Linked DNA regions of Homo sapiens: regions 1, 3 and 4 are each reported to be linked to region 2. Evidence: microRNA targets listed by miRTarBase, many of them from high-throughput screens and not tested one by one. Region 2 holds a microRNA gene; each other region holds the end of a gene's coding sequence.

Region 1 (4,000 bases), not on the chromosome of region 2:
CTCCCACCACCTGAATTCTCCAAGGACTCGGGTTTCCTGGAAGAGCTCCCAGAAGATAACCTCTCCTCCTGGGCCACCTGGGGCACCTTACCACCGGAGCCGAATCTGGTCCCTGGGGGACCCCCAGTTTCTCTTCAGACACTGACCTTCTGCTGGGAAAGCAGCCCTGAGGAGGAAGAGGAGGCGAGGGAATCAGAAATTGAGGACAGCGATGCGGGCAGCTGGGGGGCTGAGAGCACCCAGAGGACCGAGGACAGGGGCCGGACATTGGGGCATTACATGGCCAGGTGAGCTGTCCCCCGACATCCCACCGAATCTGATGCTGCTGCTGCCTTTGCAAGGACTACTGGGCTTCCCAAGAAACTCAAGAGCCTCCGTACCTCCCCTGGGCGGCGGAGGGGCATTGCACTTCCGGGAAGTCCACCTAGCGGCTGTTTGCCTGTCGGGCTGAGCAACAAGATGCCCCTCCCTCCTGTGACCCGCCCTCTTTAGGCTGAGCTATAAGAGGGGTGGACACAGGGTGGGCTGAGGTCAGAGGTTGGTGGGGTGTCATCACCCCCATTGTCCCTAGGGTGACAGGCCAGGGGGAAAAATTATCCCCGGACAACATGAAACAGGTGAGGTCAGGTCACTGCGGACATCAAGGGCGGACACCACCAAGGGGCCCTCTGGAACTTGAGACCACTGGAGGCACACCTGCTATACCTCATGCCTTTCCCAGCAGCCACTGAACTCCCCCATCCCAGGGCTCAGCCTCCTGATTCATGGGTCCCCTAGTTAGGCCCAGATAAAAATCCAGTTGGCTGAGGGTTTTGGATGGGAAGGGAAGGGTGGCTGTCCTCAAATCCTGGTCTTTGGAGTCATGGCACTGTACGGTTTTAGTGTCAGACAGACCGGGGTTCAAATCCCAGCTCTGCTGTTCACTGGTTGTATGATCTTGGGGAAGACATCTTCCTTCTCTGCCTCGGCTTCCTCATCTGCAGCTACGCCTGGGTGTGGTGAGGGTTCTAGGGGATCTCAGATGTGTGTAGCACGGAGCCTGCTGTGTCCTGGGTGCTCTCTACGTGGTGGCCGGTAGAATTCTCCATCTATCCAGGCTCCAGGAGACCCCTGGGCATCTCCCACCTGTGGCCCCTAAACCCAGAGTGACTGAGAGCACTTAACATTCAGCTTGTCTCATCCCCAGTCTACCTCCTTCCTTCTACCCTCACTGCCTCCCAGTCAGGAGAGTGAGCTCTCAGAAGCCAGAGCCCCACCCAAGGGGACCCTGGTCTCTCCGCCTTCACCTAGCAATGGGAACCCTGCTTCCCAGGGGAGGAACCAACTGCTCCACCTTCTAGGGACCCAGTTTGTTGGAGTAGGACAGTAACATGGCAGGAATCGGACTTCTGGGCCTGTAATCCCAGTTTGGATGGCACGTTAGACTCTTGGTTGACCGTTGTGGTCCTTAGAAGTCCCATTCTCCCTTCCAGTTATGAGAAACCAATGCCTTCTAGATTCAGGTGACTATCCTTACCTGGGGGTGCTGATGCATCCTCAGTTAACCTACACCCACCTGAATATAGATGAGCGTAGCTGAGTTTTCACCCGTAGGACCGAAGTGTTTTGTGGTGGAGTATCTGAACAACCTTGGCTCTGTGGCCATTCAACCTGCCAGGACTAACATTTCTGGATTTGTGAAGAAGGGATCTTCAAAGCCATTGAACCCACAGAGCTGTGTTGCTTTAAAGCCACCACAAGGGTACAGCATTAAATGGCAGAACTGGAAAAGCTTCTTAGGGCATCTCATCCAGGGATTCTCAAACCATGTCCCCCAGAGGCCTTGGGCTGCAGTTGCAGGGGGCGCCATGGGGCTATAGGAGCCTCCCACTTTCACCAGAGCAGCCTCACTGTGCCCTGATTCACACACTGTGGCTTTCCACGTGAGGTTTTGTTTAGAGGGATCCACTACTCAAGAAAAAGTTAGCAAACCACTCCTTTTGTTGCAAAGGAGCTGAGGTCAAGGGTGGCAAAGGCACTTGTCCAAGGTCGCCCAGCAGTGCTGCTCTGATGACTTGTGCACATCCCCAAGGGTAAGAGCTTCGATCTCTGCACAGCCGGGCCAACCTCTGACCCCTTGTCCATGTCAGTAAAATATGAAGGTCACAGCCAGGATTTCTAAGGGTCAGGAGGCCTTCACCGCTGCTGGGGCACACACACACACATGCATACACACATACGACACACACCTGTGTCTCCCCAGGGGTTTTCCCTGCAGTGAGGCTTGTCCAGATGATTGAGCCCAGGAGAGGAAGAACAAACAAACTACGGAGCTGGGGAGGGCTGTGGCTTGGGGCCAGCTCCCAGGGAAATTCCCAGACCTGTACCGATGTTCTCTCTGGCACCAGCCGAGCTGCTTCGTGGAGGTAACTTCAAAAAAGTAAAAGCTATCATCAGCATCATCTTAGACTTGTATGAAATAACCACTCCGTTTCTATTCTTAAACCTTACCATTTTTGTTTTGTTTTGTTTTTTTGAGTCGGAGTTTTGTTCTTTTTGCCTAGGCTGGAGTGCAGTGGTACAATCTCGGCTCACTGCAACCTCCACCTCCCGGGTTCAAGTGATTCTCCTGCCTCAGCCTCCCAAGTAGCTGGGATTACAGGCACCCGCCACCACACCTGGCTAATTTTTTTGTATTTTTAGTAGAGACGGGGTTTCACCATGTTGGCCAGGCTGGTCTCGAACTCCTGACCTCAGGTGATCCGCCCGCCTCGGCCTCCCAAAGTGCTGGGATTACAGGCGTGAGCCACCGCGCCCAGCCAAACCTTACTATTTTTTTAAAGAATTTTTTCCAGAGTTTAATTTCTGACATAGCTTAAGTTTTCCAGTAACTCTAAACTCCATCTCCTTTATCGTCATTAAGTCATTCACAAAAAGCCAGGAGAAGCATTTGGAAAGGGCATGATAATCAGTATAATAATTTGCCTTGTGTGGTCAGCACTTAACTGTTTACAAAGCCCTTTCACGTGCACAGCAGGTGGGAACTGCGCGGTGTGGGCTGGGCCTGCGCTGGAAGCATATCCCGTGAAAAGTGTTAGTGCCTTAGGTGAAAGCAACATGTATCCCTTTAGACTACTAACGGTATATGTTGTTCTTATGTATTTGTATTTATTTCTATTTTTTCTATGTTTATGTCATATTTAAACGATATCCTACTGCTTGTTGGTATTACCCTAAACTGTTTAAATAAAGAGCTCTATTTTTAAAGAAAAAAGGTACAATTGAATGGAAAAGCGTATGCTCTTATCTTTTTTTTTTTGAGACAGGATCTCACTCTGTCATGCACGCATGCCCCACCAGGCCTGGTTAATTTTTTTGTTTTTGTAGAGATGGAATCTCCTATGTTGCCCAGGCTGGTCTCAAACTCCTGGGCTCAAGCAATCCTTCCCGCCTCGGCCTCCCAAAGTGTTGGTTGGGATTATAGGTGTGAGTGACCGTTTCTGGCCTATGCTCTTATTTTTCAAAGGCTCCTCACCTCTCCTCTGGGAAACCTAGCTGTTAAGGCTACAAGGGTCAGCCAGGCAGGGTGGCTGATACCTGTAATCCCAGCACTTTGGGAGGCCGAGGCGGGCAGATCACGAGGTCAGGAGATCGAGACCGTCCTGGCTAACATGGTGAAACCCTGTCTCTACTAAAAATACAAAAAATTAGCCGAGGGTGGTGGCGGGCGACTGTAGTCCCAGCTACTTGGGAGGCTGAAGCAGGAGAATGGCATGAACCCGGGAGGTGGAGCTTGCAGTGAGCCAAGATCACACCACTGCACTCCACCCTGGGCAACAGAGCCAGACTCAGTCTCAGAAAAAAAAAAAAAAAAGACTACAAGGGTCTTGAGTCGGGTCCCCAGAAGCAAACCCAGAGAAAAGGTAGAAAGGTAGAAAGCAGTGCAGTGATCCAGGTAACGCCAGGAGGGGAGTGTGGAGGCAAGATGGGGCGGAGGGTAGGGGAGGAGGGGAGTGTGGAG
Region 2 (4,144 bases):
CTCTAGACATCGCCACAGTGAAATAGGGGAGAAAAGAGAAGGCAGTCACAAGAAACTACCATCATAGAAAGGGGATGGAGGAAATGCCATCTGCAACAGAGACAGAGACACAAAACTGCCACTGGAGAAGGATGGGAATACCAGGAGACTTATCTCTGTTCCCACCCCCAGAGTGGGTAGGGGGGAGGATTCCTATTATTTCTGAGCCAAATAAGGGCTCGGAAACATGGCATGACTTGGCATCACTGAGGATGGTGCCCCAGGGGCCCTAGGATCATGCTTGCCCTTCCTCTCCTTGCCCTGCCACTCACCCCAACACGCTCAGGGTACACGCCAGCCCTCAGGAAGGAGGCCTTCCAGCTGTCCACCTCCTCCTGTGTCTCACAGGCTAGCTCCAGCTGCCGATAATCCTTGTAGACATTCCTGCAAGATAGGGCAGGCAGTGAGGGCAGATGGGCAAAGTCTGACCCTCCCTGGGGGTTAAGGGCATGCCCAGACTTTGGGGTCAACATGCCTGAGGCCAGCTCATTTCCCAGCTGTGTGACCCTGTGCAAGTCCCTTCCTCTCAGCCTCAGTTTCCTCACTGGGAAGATGGGTTAATAATAATTCCTGCCTCCTTGGGTCACTGAGGATTCAGTGAAGTGAGTGGTAAAATGCTTAGAAGGGGACTGGACCTTTGACAAGAGGACAACCATAGTCAGTGAAGTCTCTAGCTTGGGGCCCAGATCCCACCAGCTTTCTCCGTGGCTCTCTAAGGACCCCTCTGATGGCCGCTGGACTGAACTCTCATCTCCGAGTAGCAGAGGGCCCACTAGAGTCAGCCTTGGGTCAGGAAGGAAGAGGACTAGTACTGCCACCACCCTATAGGAAAGAGAGCAGGAGAAGAGGACCAGGCCTGACTAGGGCCCTTTGGCTCCAGTGCCTGGCAGAGTGTCTCATGAAGAGCATGCACTATACCAGTGACTATGGAAGGGAGGAAGGGACGGAGGGAGGGAGGGAAGGGGAGAATGGAAGGAAGGGAGGAAGGGAGGGAGGGAGGAAAGGAGGGAGGATGGAAGGAAGGAAGGGAGGAAGGAAAAGAGGGAGGGAAGGAGGAGGGAAGGGAAGGGGAGGGGATGGGAGATCTTGACATGATGTCTAGCTCAAAGCAGGAACTCAATAAGCATCTGTCAGTGGATGGCTTGCTGTGGGGCCTAGGGGAGGTTCCTCTCCTCCCTGGATCCCTGTACCCAGCTTCTACTCAGTGAGGGTGGTTTTGGGGCTGCAGCAGCCACAGCCAGGGGCAGGCAGGCACCTCTGCTCCGTGTTAAAGAGGGCAAAGATATGCTTGCTCGACATAAAGCCCTTCTCCACGTCCCGCAGCTTGAGGTTGTCCACAGACAGCATGTATTTCTTCTCTTTCTCCTGTGGGTGCAGGTAGGAGCAATGGGGTGAGGTTGGCACTGTTCTCTGCCACACCTCACTCTCTAAGAGTCCCCCTGACTGGCCCAGGGCTTCTAAGCATCAGCCCCCTCCCACTGCGAAGGTGCAGCTAGATAAAAGCCTGGCCACGGACCGTAGGCCTCCTGGGCACCGCCGACCCCCGCAGAGCCAGTCCTACCAGCTCTGCATATATGCCGGGGGCCAGGGGGCTGGTGAGGGGTGGGGAGGCTGAGAGTGGCTCCCAAAATCCCTCCCCAGGCAAGTCCTGGATACAAGCCAGGCCAGCCTCAGGCAGGGACCGCACACTCAGGCCTCTCTCACCCCCGGCCTGGCCGCCTCTGACTTCATTTCCTGACTGCAGAGACCAGGAAGGGGGGCCACCAGACCCGGCGGCTTCAAAGGGCCGGCTCAGCCCACTCCCCCGAGCTCCCCATGTGTTAGCAATAAGGCAGCCAGCACAAGCCTGGAGATGGTGTGCCTGTGTGTGCAACATGTGTGTAGTTGTGTGTTTGTGCCAACACATGCAAGCCCAAGTACATATCCTATCAGCTATTGTGTGTGTGTGCACATGTGTATCTGGGGAGGTGCCCAGCATGAACCATGTGTCGGTGTCAGCGTGTCTGCATCTCAGTGTGGATGTGTGCACACTTTGTGGATGTGTGTGGCAATTGTGCGAGCCTACATGTTTGCAGAGCCATGCCTGTGGACTTATACTGGGGTACACATCTTACCTGCACACCGTGGTACAATGGGCTGTGTGTTTGATTTATCTAGAGCTGTCTGGGAGGAGTTATGTGTATCTGTGCACAGGCGTGTGGGGTGCTAGGCCCATGTGTGTGCTCGGTGTGGGCACATGTGTATGTAGGCTGCTGTGTCCCAGGGGAGGGGTTCAGGGATCTAGGGAGGAGGTACCCCAGGATGGGGCTCTGGGAGAGGGGAGGGGTTTTTGTCACCCATGCCCTACTTGTTCACGGGGGTCGTCTGTGTGGGCCTCGGGGACTCAAAGAGGTTGGGCATGAGCCTTGCCTAGGATCTCAGGTGGGGGGCTGGGTTTAGGGGGACCTTGCTCCCCCGTCCTGGCGTCATCCCGCCCACCCCTCTCTGCCCCCAACGCCCCCCTGGCCCATGCAGCCACATAAAGCCCTCTTTATGCCAGGCGGGTGGCCGGGAGCCCCAGAGGGCGGCTGGGGGAGGAGAGGAGGAAGTTGCACACACGGCCAGGGAACATCTGGAACCGTTCGAGAGAGGCCCCGCCACCACCCGCCCTGTGCTTCGGGGTTGGACACTAGGTAGGAGCGGCCTCCTCCCCCCACCCCTCCCTTCCTGCCGGCCGGCCCCCTCCTCAGGCCCCTCCTTCTCAGCCCCAGCTCCCGCTCACCCCTGCCACGTCAAAGGAGGCAGAAGGGGAGTTGGGAGCAGAGAGGGGACCACGGGCTGGCTGGTCTGGGGCTAGGGGGACACAGGCTGGGGTTGGGGGGTTCTCGGATCTCCAGGGGATGGGGCTGAAGCGCCCACCGGATGGACAGACACTGCTGCCTGGATGGACCAGAGGACACCTCCACTCCGTCTACCCAGTGTTTAGACTATCTGTTCAGGACTCCCAAATTGTACAGTAGTCTGCACATTGGTTAGGCTGGGCTGGGTTAGACCCTCGGCACCGCCGCCACTGGAGAGCTGGACCGACCCCTGCCTGCCATCCCAGAACCGGAGCCTGGAGCCAGGGGGTTGGGGCACAGGGCGGGCTGGGAGGAGGCACAGATGGATGGGGGTGCCACCCTGTGTGGGACTGGTTGGGGGTAGCGGTGATGGGGGAAGGGTGGCCGAGGAAGACTGAGAGGATGGGGGGGTCAATGGGGACTGGGGATGTGGGCAGCCGCCGGTCTGCCCAAAGAGCCTCCCTCACCCCAAAACCTGAGGGCTGGTGGTTGAGTAGAGAAGTACAGACCACTCTCCCACCAGCCTGGACCACCTCCACATCCCCAGTGGTCCTAGTGCAAGAATCCACTCACATTCAACACACACGCACCTTGACACTCACAGCCCCAGAACTCACACACATGAGCACCCCCACACTTTCAATCTCACACCCATGTCCCACACGGACACACACAAGTGCATGCACACACACCCATACACACCCTCACAACTGGAACACTCCCCCCATCCTCACATCCCAAAGACATACACAGATTCTCAAACACCCCATACTCACACCCTCCCTCCTAGAGCCCCCTCCCCACACACACCTGCTTTTACACCCCAAGCACAGGCAGGTGCCCAGAGTCACTCCCCAGGCACACAGATTTCACCCCCAGATGCAAATGCAGACCACATATTCCAAACACACCTAGATGCTTATACTCCAATCACACTCCTAAAAAACACCCACACACCAGACCCACAAGCCACACACACACACACACACACACACACAAACACACCCCGCCTCCCAGCACCCACAGCCCACAGCTGACTCCCATCTCCCCACATATGATTCTCAGAGCTGTTTTCGCACACGACTTAACTCAGATGTACACAAAAGCTCCAGAAAGGCCTGCAGGCTCAGGCATGAGATCAGGGGACCCCCTCAGTGGCACGTGCCCCTCCCCCACAGTGTCACCCGGTCTCCGGCCCTCAGCCCCAGGTCACATGGTCTCCCTGGCCCTGAGTAAGGAACCTCAACATGGGAGACCCCAAACCCATGGGGGCATCTAGGGAGCCT
Region 3 (4,000 bases), not on the chromosome of region 2:
AACAGATAGGGCAGGGAAGGCCATGGAGACAAGCTGCCTCCAACCCCACCTTCCAGACCCCACTGCAAAATAGGTTGGCAGTCTAATTCCGAGAGGCCTGGCGTGCCCAGGCTTGGGGGTGTGGGGGTAGACAACCAGGAAAATAGATCAGGCTGACTGGGGGAGGGAGGAGAGCGCCTCTGTGGGGTAGGTTGTCACAGCATGTGGAGGCTGGGGGGCCACAGGCTAGGGTATCATGGTGGAGTTGGGGTGTCACCCCTGTGGGGGAAAGGGCCAGTGCCCTGGAGCCTGTGCCGATGCCATCGTCTCCCCTTTCTCCCCAGATCTACCTGTCCTGGAAGAGCGGGCCAGGGGAGGTGAAGCACTGGAAGGACATGATTGCCCGTCCCCGGCAGCCCGTGGCCCAGTGGCACCAGCTGAAGGCCTGAGTGGGGCCAAGGGAGGCCCAGGGGGCCGAGGGCCCAGGTCCCCATCATGCCCTCACCACTTTATGCACAACGCCCGGCCTGAGCCCCCTGCCATAGGGAGGGGAGGACCCTGAGGGCTCAGCCAGGGAGGGGTCCCAGGACTCAACTGGGCCCCGTTTCTAGGAAGTACCAGCCCCATCCCCCACAGTCCAGCTCCGGGGAAGGGGCTCTGGGAGGCATTTTCCTGCTTTGCCCCTTTTCTTCCTGACTTACTAATACTAAAGAAGTTGGGGGAGCTCGAGAGCCAGACGGCCAGACAGGCAGACCCCTCCAGAGGCCCGCCAGGTGGGCATGGTCCCCCATTTTCTTTAAGGCAGCACCTGGAGTGGAGAGAGGCCACTCCCTCTCCAGCCCCCGATGTGGACCCGGGGAGGGGAGGCTGAGGCGTTTGGCCCCGGCCTGGCCAGGAGAGGCCCATCCCCAGGGCAGTTTCAGGTGCCGGCTGGGCCCTGAATGTCGAGGATAGTATATAGCCCGCTCCTGGGTCCTGGAGCTGTGGCCCTTTGTACTCGTGTTGTGTCCATTGTGTGTGTGCGTGGGGACAGAGGCCTGGAAATGCGGAGGACTATACAGAGAAGGCAGGTTTTGTGAAGGCCAGGCAGGGTTGGAGGCCGGGGGTGTGAGAGGAGAGGCCCATAGGGCTGAGTGGGGTCGGGTGAGGCAGAGGTCAGAAACAGAAGAGCTGCAGTTGCTGGAGCTGGGCTGAGAACTGGGCTGCCTCCTGCCATCCCCCCGTCTCCTCCCCTTCTCCCCTTGGTGCCCCCCTCTGCTCAGAATCTGAAGTAGTTCCCTCCTCAGCAATTTCATCTCTTGAACACTGACTCACACCTTTTAGGCACCTACTGTGTGCATAGCATTCCACCAGGACTCATCTCCCTTCCTTCTCAGGGGGTCCCGAGCCCCGACTAGCTTTGCCCTAACTCCTTCATCAAAAGACCCCCCGCCAGCTTCCCACACCTCATACGCAGCCACATCTGCCCTATTCTCCATGCTTTCCAGCTTGCCTGCCCTTCCTCATCTCTCCCTGCCTGTGCAGACCTCCACCCTTCTTTCCTCCACCCCTCCATCCCCCAATGCTTGTAGACCTTCCATTCATTCCGTCTCATCGTGCGTGGTCTCTGATCGTCCATCACCTGACCTTCTCCAGGACTGTCTTCTCACCCTTCCCCACTCCCTGGTCCCCGGGAGCAGCTCCTTCTGCCCGACTCACTCACAGTGCAGGGAAAGGAGGCAGGGAAAAGACCAGGATTCTGTGAGTTCTGAGGTTGCCACACACAAAGAAGCTGTGGTTTCTCTGCCTCGGCCACTGATGAGACTAAAACTGGCTTCCCCTTGGAGACGGCAGATTTCAGGCTGATCCCTGCTTAAGCCCTCTCATCCCCACGCTGGTCCTGGTATTGATACAAGACCCAGCTGGTGACAAAGCCTCCAATCCTGGGGGTCCACGAGCCTGGGCCTGACATTCCCAGAACTACCGCCAGGTGGCGCCAGGCCCCCACAGTCTGTGGCCGTGGTCTTAGCCCCCAGTTCCACTCTGGATGGGCCTGTGACACCCCAAAGAGAAGAAGGGGACTCTGGATAGGGTCCCCACATCCAGGGCGTGGGGAGACCATTGGCATTTGGGAACCATTTTCCTTCGAACGGCTTCCCCTTGAGCTGAGCATTCTGCTTGCTGCAGTAGACGGGTCGCCTTTTGCCCATACCGAAATTTTCTGAAATTAAATCGCACACCCCCACCATTTCCTCTCCCTGGGATCTGGAGGAACATCATACATAGTAGGTGAATCGTTTTGTAGAGTGAAGAATGCTAATGTAAAGCAAATAGTCACCCACGTTCCTTGTAAATCCAAATGTTTCTATATTGTAGCTTTGCTTAAAATGGGGTCGGCCCCAACTGCATCCTCCTCTTTGGCGGGCTGGGGAGCGGCCCCCAGCCGGGACGGGAGGGCAGCGACCCCGAGGCCTCGTGGACGTGGGAGAGAGTGTGGTGGGAAGTCTTGAGCGGAGGAGGGGATCTGCCCTTCTCCACTCCTCTCTTGGATCCGCCTCGGTTTCCTGTCCCCCCACCACCCGCCTGCCCCGCGGAAGACCGCCCAGTGAGCCAGCCCCCACCTTCCAGGCGCCTTCGCCCTGGGGATCCAACCAACTTGTATCGAGTGGGCGGGGCAACGGCTCCCCATTTTTCCCGAGCCCCGCCCACAGAGCTCTTAGCCAATCCTATGCAGAGAGCATCTCCTGGCAGGGGTCTCTTCCCAACCAGACCCCACCCAGGCACATTAGCGACCAGGCTTGGGCTTCCCCAGCGCCCCACCACCACCACGTGCAGGTGGAGCTCTGGGATGCTATGTTGGGGCGGCAAGCGGTGGGCCGAGGGCCGGGTAGGCTAGCACGGGAGGTAAGGGTGGTATGGGATGGGGCGGGGGCGGTCTAGGGCAATAGGAGAGCAGAGAATGGGGGAACTTGAGGGTGGGGGGAGGGCACCGGAGCCTTGCCACCATCCCAGGACTTTGGGCAAGTCACCCGCACTCCCTGGGCCTCGGTTTCCCCATCTGTAAAATGATGGTAATAATACTTCACCTACCTCATAGGGGAGGTTGTGAGGCCACCATCACCTGACCTGGGGGTCAAGGCAGGAGGACTCCGAAGGTGCTACCCGTGAGCAAAGTGTAATTACCGAATCCTGACTGCAAGGCCCACCTGCCCCTCCCCCACAGAGCCTCCAGAGCTAGCTGAGGCCAACGCAGGCCCATCCGTCTCTTCACTCTGTCGCAGGCCCTTTCATGGGCTTCGTCTGCCATCTTTGTGGGTGCCCTAGACTTAGTCCTTATCTTGTCCTGGTTTCCTTTCTTGTGACCATCTCCCCATGAAAGTGCTGTACAAATTCCACCCGCCCCAGGACCCCCGCACCTGCCCTCTGGCACCAGATGCCAGGGAAGGGACAGAGGAAAACAGCCACAAACAAGCCAGGGGGGCTCCCCGGAGCCCCAGGGGTGGGGATTGGTGGCCACTGTTTGTATGTTCTTGAGTGCAAGTGTTTTATAAAAAATAAAACAAAAACCCACCATCACAAAAAAAAAAATTTTGCAGCGAAGAGAAATGAAGAAAAACTGAAGAAAAAAAAAAAACAGGAAAAAAAGAACCATACAAAATTTTTCCACCACACATACCCTCTAAGCCAGCAAGATTTCCTCTTTGCAAAATCATATTTTTGTGGGAATGGGCCCTGCTTTTTGTGGCAAGGCCTGTTCTGATTAATAAAGGATCGTGAAAAAGTAGGGCCTTGGCTGTTTCCTCCGTGGGTCCCAGCCCTCCCTCACCTCCCTGGGGGCAGAGGCAGTGGGGTGAAGGGGATGGGGGCCCCGGGGCTGAGCCTCCCCTCAGTGTGTCACCTTTGGGATTTGACTTCACTGGTGACCAGGCCCTTCCCGAGTGTCCAGCCATCCTCAGATCTCTATAGAATATGATCCCACTGGCTTCCCAGAAAGCAGAGAGGCAGCTACATCTCCCAGATCAGGCCTGACACAAGGCTTTTT
Region 4 (4,000 bases), not on the chromosome of region 2:
GTGGCACGGAGCAGGCCTTGTTCCGTGCAGGTGCTCATGCACCTCCCAGCTTATGGGGGTGACTCCAGTCTGAGCATCTCGGCAGAGGTGTGCAGAGCCGCTGCCTTTTGGGAAAGGCCAGCTGGACCCCTAGTGTCCCGCCACAGATGGGGGCCCTGGCCAGGAGGGAGCCTCTGTGCAGCCTGTGCCCTGCAGGAGCACTGACCTTCTCTCCCTCCCCTCCCTGCACAGGGTGGATCTTTGGCGAGCGTCTGCACGACCAGGAGAGAGGCTGGTTCCCCAGCTCCATGACTGAGGAGATCTTGAATCCCAAGATCCGGTCCCAGAACCTCAAGGAATGTTTCCGTGTCCACAAGATGGATGACCCTCAGCGCAGCCAGAACAAGGACCGCAGGAAGCTGGGCAGCCGGAATCGGCAATGACCCCCACCCAGGGGGCCAGCGGGAGCAGGGCCTGCATGAGACCCCGACAGAAGGTGGGGGGGGGGGGGCTCTGGGAAGCACAGGCCAGCACCTCCCCAGGTGGCAGGATCTGGCTTGGGGTGCCCGGCCCTCATCCCTGCCCACGCAGTGAGTGCTCATGTGTCTTGGCCCCTTGCTCGCAAACTGGATAAAGGGTGCCCAAGCCTCTCCTGATGCATTTGTAAACAAGAAGGTTTCAGCAGTATTACACCACCTCCCTCATGCCTCCGAGGGGGTGGAAGGGGGTGGGCACACTCCAGGGCCCCCCATGCCCCTGGCCCCCAGGGACTGGAAGAGGCTCCCAACCCAGAGTGTCCCTGTGGGAGGCAGGCAGAAGGTGACAATTGACACGATTTCCTGCACGCGTCCTCCTCTACCTTGGAAGCAGTTAGAATCTACCAGGCACAGATGAGGCCGCCCTTGCCTGACGGAGCTTGATGAGCAGCCCTTGGTCTCCGGTTCCAGGACTGAGAGCCCAGCTGCCTCTGCCCACCCTTCCCCAGGCCTCTGCCAGCCTCTGGCTGCACGGTCAGGCCCTGCCCCATGGCAGGCCTGCCAGAGCTTGGCTGGGGACCCCTCCCGCCTCTGGCTCCCTGATGGGCTGGATGTAACTTGTGTCTTCTAGCCCCTTAAGGAGCCCAGGTGTTTTAAGGAATGAATTGGTCACTGCATCTTGTATCGATTATGGTTCTGAGAAAAGCAAATATCACTTTTGGCTGCATTAAAAGAAGCATCATATATAAAATAAAGAAGATGAAGGTCTACTCTTTATTGCCCTTGTACACAAAGGAAGGGGGTGTTTGGTTCCAGGTAGTGAGAGAGGAGCACCCCTTCAAGGCTGGTCGAGGAGGCATGTCCCAAAGGAAGAGTTCAAGGCGGTTTCCAGAGAGGAAGGAACAGCCAGGGCCTTGCCTCAACATGGGAACGGATTTGGGCCTCCACTTGTAGGACTCCAGAAACAGAAAGGGCTGTTTGACGGAGCTGGGGACGCCCCTCTGCTGCAGTGGAAATGAGGACACAGCTTTGGAAGACCGTAGAGGCCCCGAAGTGTCCATGGTGGGGGGGGCCCTACAGGGGATCTCACCACAGGCATGGGGCTGGGACTTCCTGCACTGCCCAGAAACAGGCCCTGGGCCCTTCACACCTTCAGTTACCCAGAGCGCACCCCCTCCCCTCGCCCCAGCTCCACCTCAGTGTGCTGAGGGGTCCTGTGTGCCCAGGACCACGATCTCTGCCAGGACACAGTTTCCCTGCTCGCCAGAACAGGCCTCTGGTTTAGATCCAGTGGGACTTTGTAGCGTCTTCCCACAGGCCACAGCAGGGTGCTCGGACCTCAGACCCTCTGAGAATCACAGAGATGCACAGGCATGTGACACTGGTTCCACCGGAGAGGGAGGCCCCCTGGTCCCAGTGAGGGGCTGTGATGCACCCGTTGGTGGGGGAGTGCTTGCAGAGTGGGGAAAGGGAAAGAGGGGGCCATCTCTCGTCCCTGGAGGGGAGGGTTGGGAAGGAGTTGGGTGGCCATTGGTCCCCGTGCCTTTTGAGGATGGGAAACAGCATGTTGGGTTGGATCGTCCGCTCTGATGAAGGCTTTGGTTACTCAAGGTTATGTGAGATGAAGTCAGTTAACCAATTAGGAAAATAGGTCAGTTTCATAGCACTCCTTTATAAGCAGAATCATTGAACTCACAGTGTATTTTGGGGAGACTGGTTGAGTGGGAAGCTGTTAACAGACTTGGATGAGGCCTTGACCCTATCCCCCAGTGTGTGAGAGGTGCGCGGGCACCACCTGGGCTCCAGTGTCCAGGAGGAGAAAGTCACGGCAGGAAACAGTGCCATGGGGAGCTCAGGGACACCAAAGGGGCCAAAACAGCTGCTAGAGAAAATGAATTTTTAAAAAAGAGAAGCAGCTTGCCCTCCAGCAACATTCCCACTCAGGAATCTTCAGATACATTAAGCTGTCCCCAAGGGGTCTGCTGGCCTCCAAACTGTCCAACCCTTCCCTCCAAAGGCCCTGGGGACTGGGGTAGGGACCAAGTTCCCACTTCCTGCTGTGCTGAGCAGGTTAAATGATCAAAGGATCAAAGTTTACATCTCTAAATGCTTCCGAGGTGGGGACCCTGGACCAGGCTCCTCACCCTCACTCCGCCCCGACTCTCTGAGGGTGAAGTGAGGTGAGTAGAGCTGGGAAAGCCGTTTTCTCTCCCTGAACAAACCAACCGTGGGCGTGGGGGCTGCCGGCCCCCAGCCAGGCCTGGGGGTGAGAGTAGGAAGCAGGGGCGGGCCGTGTCCGGCGTCGACTCTCGACTCATCCTGCTCCTGAGGCTCCCTGGGCAGAGGGGGGCTTGGGGCTGCTGGTCTGAGCCCGCGGATGGGGCCCTGGCTGCAGGACTCAGAGTCAAGACGTCCCCCAAAACCACGCGGCCTCTGGCTGGGAGAGCCGACGGCCCCTGCCCTCCCCAACCCCGGCCTCAAGGAGCGGCGGGCCCCGGGGTCTCTGTCGGCCTCTCCTGCCCTAGCGCTTACCTCCTCACGGAACGCTCTGAACCCCAGCGGAGCGGGATGGGAGGCAGGCCCCGGGGAGCGCGGCGAGGGCCTCGGCCCGCGCCCAGGCAGAGGAGGCGGCGCCGGGAGAAGGGGCCGCCCGTGGCGTGGCCCTGACCGTGACGGTGCCCCCGGACGGGCTAAGACCGCTGGCCGCACACCCGCTCCGATGCCCTGGCGGCCCCGGCGCACGCGCACCGGGCACGCACATGCGGCGCGCTCCTGAGGCACTCCAGCCGTGGTGCACGGGGACGCCGAGCCGCGCGGCCCTGCGCGCGCTCAGGTGCACGCCACACGCAGGCGGGCTCGGACATGCTGTGCGCTCACGCACGCCCCGGCGCCCCTGCGGGGAATTCGGGCGCGCCTCCGGACCCGCGCGCGTGCACGGCACCCACCCTCGGCCCCGCGCGCACCCCCGCCCTGAGCGCTCGCCTGCGCGCGCTCACGCTCTGGCACACCTGCATGCGCGGACACGCACGCGCGGACATACAGGCGCGTGAGGAGTGCAGCCGAGTCGCGCCGCGGCCGGGCGCGGCCCCTTTATTCGCTTCAGGAGGCAGAAAACTTTCTCAGCGCGACGACCACGAGCGCCAGCACCACGCAGGTGGCCAGCAGGGCGGCGATCACGATGGCCGCGATAGCGCCGGGCCCCAGCGACCCTGCGGAGGACGGAGGACCATGTCACCTGCTAGCCCCCGCCTGGCCGGCCCTTCTCCCCGCGCCCCCCGCCCCCCGCCCCTCCTAATTTCTCCCTCTCCCCTCCCTCCCCCGCCCCGCCCGTACCGCCGCCCTGGTCCAGCCGCTCCTGCGCGGTGCTGTCCTCGGGTCCTGGCGCGACGGTGGGGGCTGGGGGACCGGTGTCCACGGGCTCCCGGCCGGGGCTGGTGCTCTCCACGGGGCCTTCTCCCGACGGCAGCTCGGCCGGCTCGTTCCACAGCGTGGGCACGGGCTCCTGTGGAACATCGTCTGCAAAGCCAAGGAGAGGTGCTGGGGCC

What was found. The annotated mature microRNA hsa-miR-3154 reads CAGAAGGGGAGUUGGGAGCAGA and lies in region 2 at 2,821-2,842, shown strand. An mRNA with a match to its seed (bases 2 to 7 or 8) in the 3' UTR can be bound and repressed. Matches are read on the target gene's strand: a 7mer-m8 pairs with bases 2 to 8, a 7mer-A1 pairs with bases 2 to 7 and ends in A, and an 8mer does both.
Region 1: miRTarBase lists IFNLR1 as a target of hsa-miR-3154. Seed matches in the 3' UTR shown: 7mer-A1 at 1,198-1,204, 7mer-A1 at 1,333-1,339 and 7mer-A1 at 1,489-1,495.
Region 3: the mRNA of SYT7 is a reported target of hsa-miR-3154. Seed matches in the 3' UTR shown: 7mer-m8 at 1,210-1,216, 7mer-m8 at 1,511-1,517 and 7mer-m8 at 2,486-2,492.
Region 4: miRTarBase lists SNORC as a target of hsa-miR-3154. Seed matches in the 3' UTR shown: 7mer-m8 at 3,094-3,100.

What each region holds. Positions count from the first base shown.
Region 1 is chr1:24,153,421-24,157,420 of GRCh38, reverse strand. IFNLR1 (interferon lambda receptor 1) reads left to right here. Exons shown (of 7, transcript NM_170743.4): 7 at 1-3,253. The coding sequence ends at 291. It overlaps LOC124903879 (a long non-coding RNA gene), which reads right to left. Exons shown (of 3, transcript XR_007065544.1): 2 at 2,229-2,409; 3 at 1-166. Among named protein-coding and RNA genes, the nearest start is that of IL22RA1, 12 kb to the right of the region's middle. RefSeq lists enhancers at 2,731-3,328, 3,329-3,926, 3,927-4,000.
Region 2 is chr9:128,243,654-128,247,797 of GRCh38, reverse strand. MIR3154 (microRNA 3154) reads left to right here and starts at 2,768; the gene lies at 2,768-2,851. It overlaps DNM1 (dynamin 1), which reads right to left. Exons shown (of 22, transcript NM_004408.4): 16 at 1,295-1,404; 17 at 312-423. MIR199B (microRNA 199b) reads left to right here and starts at 2,968; the gene lies at 2,968-3,077.
Region 3 is chr11:61,515,055-61,519,054 of GRCh38, reverse strand. SYT7 (synaptotagmin 7) reads left to right here. Exons shown (of 13, transcript NM_001365809.2): 13 at 324-4,000. The coding sequence ends at 428. Among named protein-coding and RNA genes, the nearest start is that of LRRC10B, 8.3 kb to the right of the region's middle.
Region 4 is chr2:232,875,911-232,879,910 of GRCh38, reverse strand. SNORC (secondary ossification center associated regulator of chondrocyte maturation) reads right to left here. Exons shown (of 3, transcript NM_001394206.1): 2 at 3,789-3,971; 3 at 1,211-3,664. The coding sequence ends at 3,555. It overlaps NGEF (neuronal guanine nucleotide exchange factor), which reads left to right. Exons shown (of 15, transcript NM_019850.3): 15 at 232-1,210. The coding sequence ends at 422. Among named protein-coding and RNA genes, the nearest start is that of SNORC, 7.6 kb to the right of the region's middle. RefSeq lists a silencer at 3,353-3,422.